Linked DNA regions of Homo sapiens: region 2 is linked to region 1. The links come from fine-mapping of genetic effects on gene expression. A gene starts in region 1. The other region holds a variant in brackets. All regions are shown on one strand. Distances are between the middles of the regions. Region 1 holds the start of SEPTIN5 (septin 5). Region 2 has its middle 26 kb from the start of SEPTIN5.

What was found. PIP is the estimated chance that this variant, and not a neighbour inherited with it, causes the effect.
Region 2: its variant is the best candidate, but not a certain one, in a credible set for the expression of SEPTIN5 in unexposed skin (GTEx, PIP 0.89).

Annotation. Positions count from the first base shown.
Region 1 is chr22:19,712,862-19,715,757 of GRCh38, reverse strand. It overlaps SEPTIN5 (septin 5), which reads right to left and starts at 1,255. Exons shown (of 12, transcript NM_002688.6): 1 at 1,127-1,255; 2 at 967-977. The coding sequence starts at 1,169. It overlaps LOC124905079 (a long non-coding RNA gene), which reads left to right and starts at 963. Exons shown (of 2, transcript XR_007068003.1): 1 at 963-1,061.
Region 2 is chr22:19,687,257-19,690,152 of GRCh38, reverse strand. No RefSeq gene overlaps it. Among named protein-coding and RNA genes, the nearest start is that of SEPTIN5, 26 kb to the left of the region's middle. RefSeq lists an enhancer at 1,167-2,015. The variant C/T (reference allele first, on the strand shown) is at 1,283.

The DNA.
Region 1 (2,896 bases):
TCCCCCAGCTCCTGGCCCCCCTGCCCGCCCTCCTGCCCTGCCTGCTGCACCCTGGGCCAGGACTCTGGAGTTCCACTCAGCATCCATGGCTCCTGAGAAACTCCATCCCTGATGGGGGCTGCCAGTGCCACCCTGGTGCCAGAATTGGGCTCTTCTTTTTTCCTCCAAAGATGGCTGAGCTCAAGCCAGAGAGGACACCAGCAGGCTTTCCCCAGCCCCCCCAGCCCACCTGGTTGTCAGCCCCCGCCCCACCCCAGGGGCCTCACAGCATTGTTTAACCCTGAGCTCGGCTGGGTTTCACCCAGGTGCCTAGACCAGCCTCCTGTCCAGTCTTGCTTTCCTGGAGGGTGGGGCCAACCCTTTTGAGAAGCCACAAGCCTATTTGTACCCACAGGGTCCCAGGACCCATCTGGGCACCCAGAATGACTCAGACCAGACCCTGGGGGTTCCCAATCTGGGGAAGAGTCCCTGTTGCAGACCTGAACACTCAAATTTGTGTATGGGGAGGGAAAGGGGCATGAAGGTGCAGGGGAGGTGGGTGGTGACCACAGGCCCTCTGCTGTAGGGCTGTTCAGGGACTGTGCTGGCTGATGGAGCCTGACTCCCCTCCCCCAGCGTGGCCTGCCACGACCATGGCCTCACCCAGGACCCCCAGCTCATGGCCTACAGGCCAGGTCAGCAGGAGATGCTGGCACTGGCCCTGTGGGAGGGGGACACTCTGCCCATCCCCCCATCCTGGGGAGGGGCGCAGGGTCCCTGCTGTGCGGGTCCGGGGACCAGGGCCCCCACTCCTCTCCTCTGAAGCCCCAGGCGCGGCGGCACTGCCCGGCTGACAATCGGTGATCGCGACAGGGCTGGGTGAGGGCCGGCGGGGGCGGGGTCGCGCCTGGGCGCCCAAGGCGCTAGTGTCACAATGGGTGACAGCCGGCCGGGTCTCCCGGCGGGGGAGCGGCGCTGCGCACGTACCTGCTTGTCCTCTGCGGGGTCGGGGTCGGGGTCGAGTCCGGGTCCGGTTCCGAGCGGGTCCGGGCCGGCGGGCGGGGGAGAGACGGAGAGACACGGTGAGAGGCGCGCGGGCGGCGGGGACAAAGGCGCGCGCGGGCACGCGGGCAGGCGCTGGGCTCACCTGGGGTCGCCAGCTTGCTCTTGTACCGCAGGCCTGTGCTCATGGTGGCCGCCGGCGGGGGACGTGCGGGGCGGGCTCGCGGGCGGGGCGCGACGACAAGCGGCGGAGGCCGAGGCCGGGCTGCGGGGTGAGCGGCCCCTCCGCGCCGCCGCCGCCGCCGCCCGCTCCGCCCGCGCGCCCGGCAGCCAATCGGCGCCCGCCGCGCCCACGCGCGACCCAGGGCGGCCCGGGGGGGCGGGGACCCAGGTCCCCCACCATGGACCCGAGACCACGGCCTCGGGGCGACGCCCTCGCCTCCTACAGCCCTGGCCGCGCCCGGGGTCACCCGACCAGACCCGCGCCGCCCCCGCCCTGCACGGCTGTTCCTGCCGGCCTCCTCCCCGCCACCTCCCCGGTGCCGCAGCCCAGGCCCAGCCTTACGCTCCCCCCGCCCTCGCTGGGACCCGGGTCCATGCCGGTCCTCGGACCATCCGTCCGGTGGCCCTTCTCTAAAGCCTGCCCTGGCTTTCCGGGCCAGACCCTGCACGCTCCGCCCCACCCCGCCGAGGTCAGCAGGGATGGTCCTGGCGCGGCTGGCCAGTGCCCAGCATTGCCCCTGCTGACCGCTCGGTGCTGCGCAGACCTGCTCTGCGAGCAGACGCACCTGGCAGGCTGTAGGCCACAGGCTTTTGGGCAGTGGTCCGGCCTCTCTCTTCCTGGGCTGTAAAATGGGATTATTTGTGAAGAGGAGTGATCTGAGGTGTCTGGCAGGACCGGCCCTGACCGTCTCACCCCAGCTCTGCGCCTGCTTCTCTGCTGACCCATAGGCTGTGGGGATGCTCCAGGCAGACCCGATCCCACCCTGCGGAGAAGGCTTGTAGGGGACCGAGGGGCACTGTGAAGGCAGGGCCAGGGCCTGCACCCCATTTACAGAGGGGGAAGTTCAGGCCCTAATCTTCAGTGAGTCAGCCAGACTCAGTGACTGAGAGCAAGTCTCTCCGGTCATTTGTGTCACTATCACATTCCCAGGTGTCCTCCGCCTGGACTTTCCCAAAGTGTCCCCAGGCGGCATCTCTGAAGGCTTTGGGGCTGTCAGGCTTGCGGTCACCACCTCCCCAGGTGAGGGCCCCCTTGTATGGAGATGTCTCCTGCACCCCGTATAGACAGTACCTCCACAGCCAGGGAATCCGCCTCTGCTCCCCACCCGTCCTGTGCCCCTTGGTCCCTCTGCTGGCCCGTGGGCTCCCTGGGTGGAGGGGGGTGTCGCTAGGGCCTTTCCATCTCTGAATCACCAGCACCCAGCACGGTAAGTGAAAAATTCATGTAAGCCGCGTCTTTGTTCCACAGTCCTTGCTCTGCTGCATTCTGTGGCCAGAGCGCCGTTGACCATAACCCTGCTCTGGGTCTAGAACTCTAACCAGTGTAGGGATCCCCCACAGTCCCAACCTCTCATCCAAGATGTGTTTGGAACTCAGGCTTTTTTGTATACATCATACATTATGTGGCACCTCTTTGGAACCTGGGGCTGCTCCTCATAATCAGACCCATTTATATTTTCGGGGCAAAACATATGTATTCAGGTGAACTGGAAGAAATAAAGACAGTAAGTGATGGCGCATCGTTCAGGTCCAGCTTTGCCACTGAGTTTTGAAAAACCTTTATGTTTCTGAGCTTTGGAGAATTTGGAATTTCGATAAAGAAATGTGTGTTGAGGTCAGGAGATCAAGACCATCCTGGCTAACACGGTGAAACCCCGTCTATTAAAAATACAAAAAATTAGCTAGGCATGGT
Region 2 (2,896 bases), 26 kb after region 1:
GTAAGACCTCATCTCTACCAAAAAAATTTTCAAAAAATTAGCTGGATGCTGTGGGATATACCTGTAGTCCCAGCTACTTGGGAGGCTGAGGCTGGAGGATCCTTTGAGCCCAGGAGTTTGAGGCTACAGTGAGTCATGATCACAGCACTGCACTCTAGCCTGGGTGGCAGAGTGACACCTTGCCAAAAAAAAAAAAAAATGGTAGCACAATGTAGATTTTTACAGAAGGAGCAAGAAAGGCCACGAAGCAAAATGTTTAAAAGCAACAACTTGAAGTGAAAGGTTTAAGGAGCTCATTGAGCTTTCCTTTTCTCCGGAAGACCCCAGAGAGAGCCCTGAGTGGGTCTGTGGCCATTGGGAGTCTCTGGCCACCACAACGGGAGCTTGTGGTCCTGTAGGAGCTGATGGATGGGTCAGCATCGCCTGGGCCGAGTGCCCATGTCTGCCATGTGACTCGTGGTCTTCCACAGCAGACACTCAGCTCTCTACATACAGGCGTGGCTGGTACGAAAGCCACAGGGGCTCCCCCAGGGCCCCAGCTCAGGGTCGGACGTGGGATGTGGCCGGCCCCAGACTCTCTGCTCGAGCTCATCTGTGCAGCCTCACAGGGGCTGGCCCTGCCACGGGTGCCCCTCCCGGGCCGTGCACCAGGAGGTTTCCACCCTGACCTGTGAAGATGCAGCGCTCTTCGGATCTGAGCAACACACTTCATTCAGGATGGGCCTTTCCCAGGACAGCACTGATGGGAGCTTCCTGTGCACACCTGTTGGGCTGTGCTTCTCCTCGGAACATCCGGTTAAGCAGGAATGGGGCCTGTGTTGGGGTAAGGGGCTGCTCCACTCCCTCCATGCCCCACCTGCAACTGTGCAACCACCTCCTGCATCCAGCCAAGCTGAGGGGTCCACATGGATGGTCAGCAGGGTTTCACCTGGCAGTGAGATCTGCCCCCTGCACTGGGGGGACGAGGGCTGGTCTGTCCTCATGTCCTGCCCCAGTGGCCACCCCAAGCCCCAAGGGAAAAGCAGCACAAGTGTGTCTGCTCCCCACTGCGTAAGGGCACCTGCTCCTCTTTCCACCGGCCAGCTCCTGGATGCCCCACACCCGCAGCCTGTGAGCAGAGGGTGGCAGGAGGGAGAGGAGGTGACAGAGAGCCCAGAGATAAAAGCCAATGTGTGGGCCACTCCTGAAGGCTGCAGGCACAGAGACAGGGGGCACCTATCAGGGCTTGGGGCTGAGAGGACGCCCAGAGCTGCAGGCGGAGAGCAGGGGTCACTGCCAAGGG[C/T]TCTGGCCAGAAAACCAGGCATGGGGCTCTGGGGAGCCTTCAAGGAAACAGGCCCGGGGCTGTGGGCTGAGGCGGGGCTCTGGTGAGACAGCTCCTAAACCCCAAGCCAGCATGGCCATGCTGGGTCCCTGACCTCCAAGGCCATTGCTCTGGGGGATAAGACACGCCCAGTAAGCAGGATCCCAACATCTACTCATCCCGGCAGCCTCTGGGCCTCTGCAAACCCTGCTCGGGGGGAAGAGGAGGCTGAGGGGGAGGCTGCACCAGGCAGAGCTGTTGGGGAAGGGCCCCTGGATGCCACATGTGAACCTCAGAGAGGGCAGGTGTGTGGGCAGGCACGGCCGGGCCACGGGAGCACGTGTCCGGGCAGGGAGAGGGCAGTGGGCCTGGGCTGAGCAGGTTGGGGGCCCTGCGAGAGAGACTAGGGAGGTCTCCAGAGGGGTGGCATGCCCAGGGTGTTAGGGAGATTGATGTGGCGGCAGCAGACCCCCGAGGAGGCAGGGGTGAAGGTGTCACCCAGGAGGCTGCAGACAGCTGGCCAGCCGGGGTCCGAGGGGCCAGTTAATGAGGAGAGAGCCAAGGGCCAACGTACCCAGGAGGAAGGAAGGAAGCCAGGCCAGGCAGGGATGGGTGGCGAAACACAGCGTGAGACCACAGTCATGAAGTAACTCCCGCAGCCGCTCCACTCAAGCCGGTCCTGAGGCGGTTTCCACACTTGTTGGCTGTGACTACAAATTAAAAAGCCAAGTGCAGACATCAAGGCTGCCCTGCAGCTGTGACACCCCTCCCCGCCCCACCCACCACGCCTCTGACTCCCAGCCGAGGGCCGAGAGCCCCTCCTGAGCACACCCCATCCACCCAGCTCCACAGTGTGCACAGGGTGTGGCAGCCTTGGATGCAGAGAAGCACCTTGCAGCCTCCCCAACAGGTTCCCGCTGGCCCAGTGCCAGCCCTTGCCCCAGTTGTGCAGGGACCTGCGGAGCTGTGCTGCAATTCATTTCTTTGGCAACAATGACCTGAGAGAGCCTGGCCTTAAGAGCGAAGATAAACGGGCTCTTCGACTAGGATGTCCTTGTCACAGCGGGAGGGAGATCTGCAGCTGGCCCTGCTCCCTTACCCCTTTGCACAACGTGAGGAGCCCCTGAGAAGAGCCCATGGACCACGCCGAAATGCAGGGTGCTGTGGGGTTCTCCAAGGAGGAGGCCAGGCCCTTGTCCTCAGCTCAGCCCCGGGGGAGGAACCCAGGGAAGGGGAGACAAATTTTGCAGGGATGTGGAGTCCCAGAGAGCAGGGCCCCTGTTCAGAGCCGAGAGGGGCCGCAGGGCGTGGGGGCAGAAAGAAGTGCAAGGGCTGTGCACCAAGGACACAGATCAATAGCCGGTTCCTCAGAGTGCAGCTGAAAAGCTTAAAAGCTTTGAAAATGCAATGTCTGGGTTCTGCCGGTGAGCACCTAATAGTGCTCTCTGAGAGTGGCCCCCGACTCTGCCTTTTTTTTTTTTTTTAAATGCAGATACCGGTTTAAAGCTAGACACACTCTCAGTTAAGTGTACACCAGCCTCACAGACTTCATGATCCAGACTTGTTCTACGTGACCCAAATTACACATGACTGCCT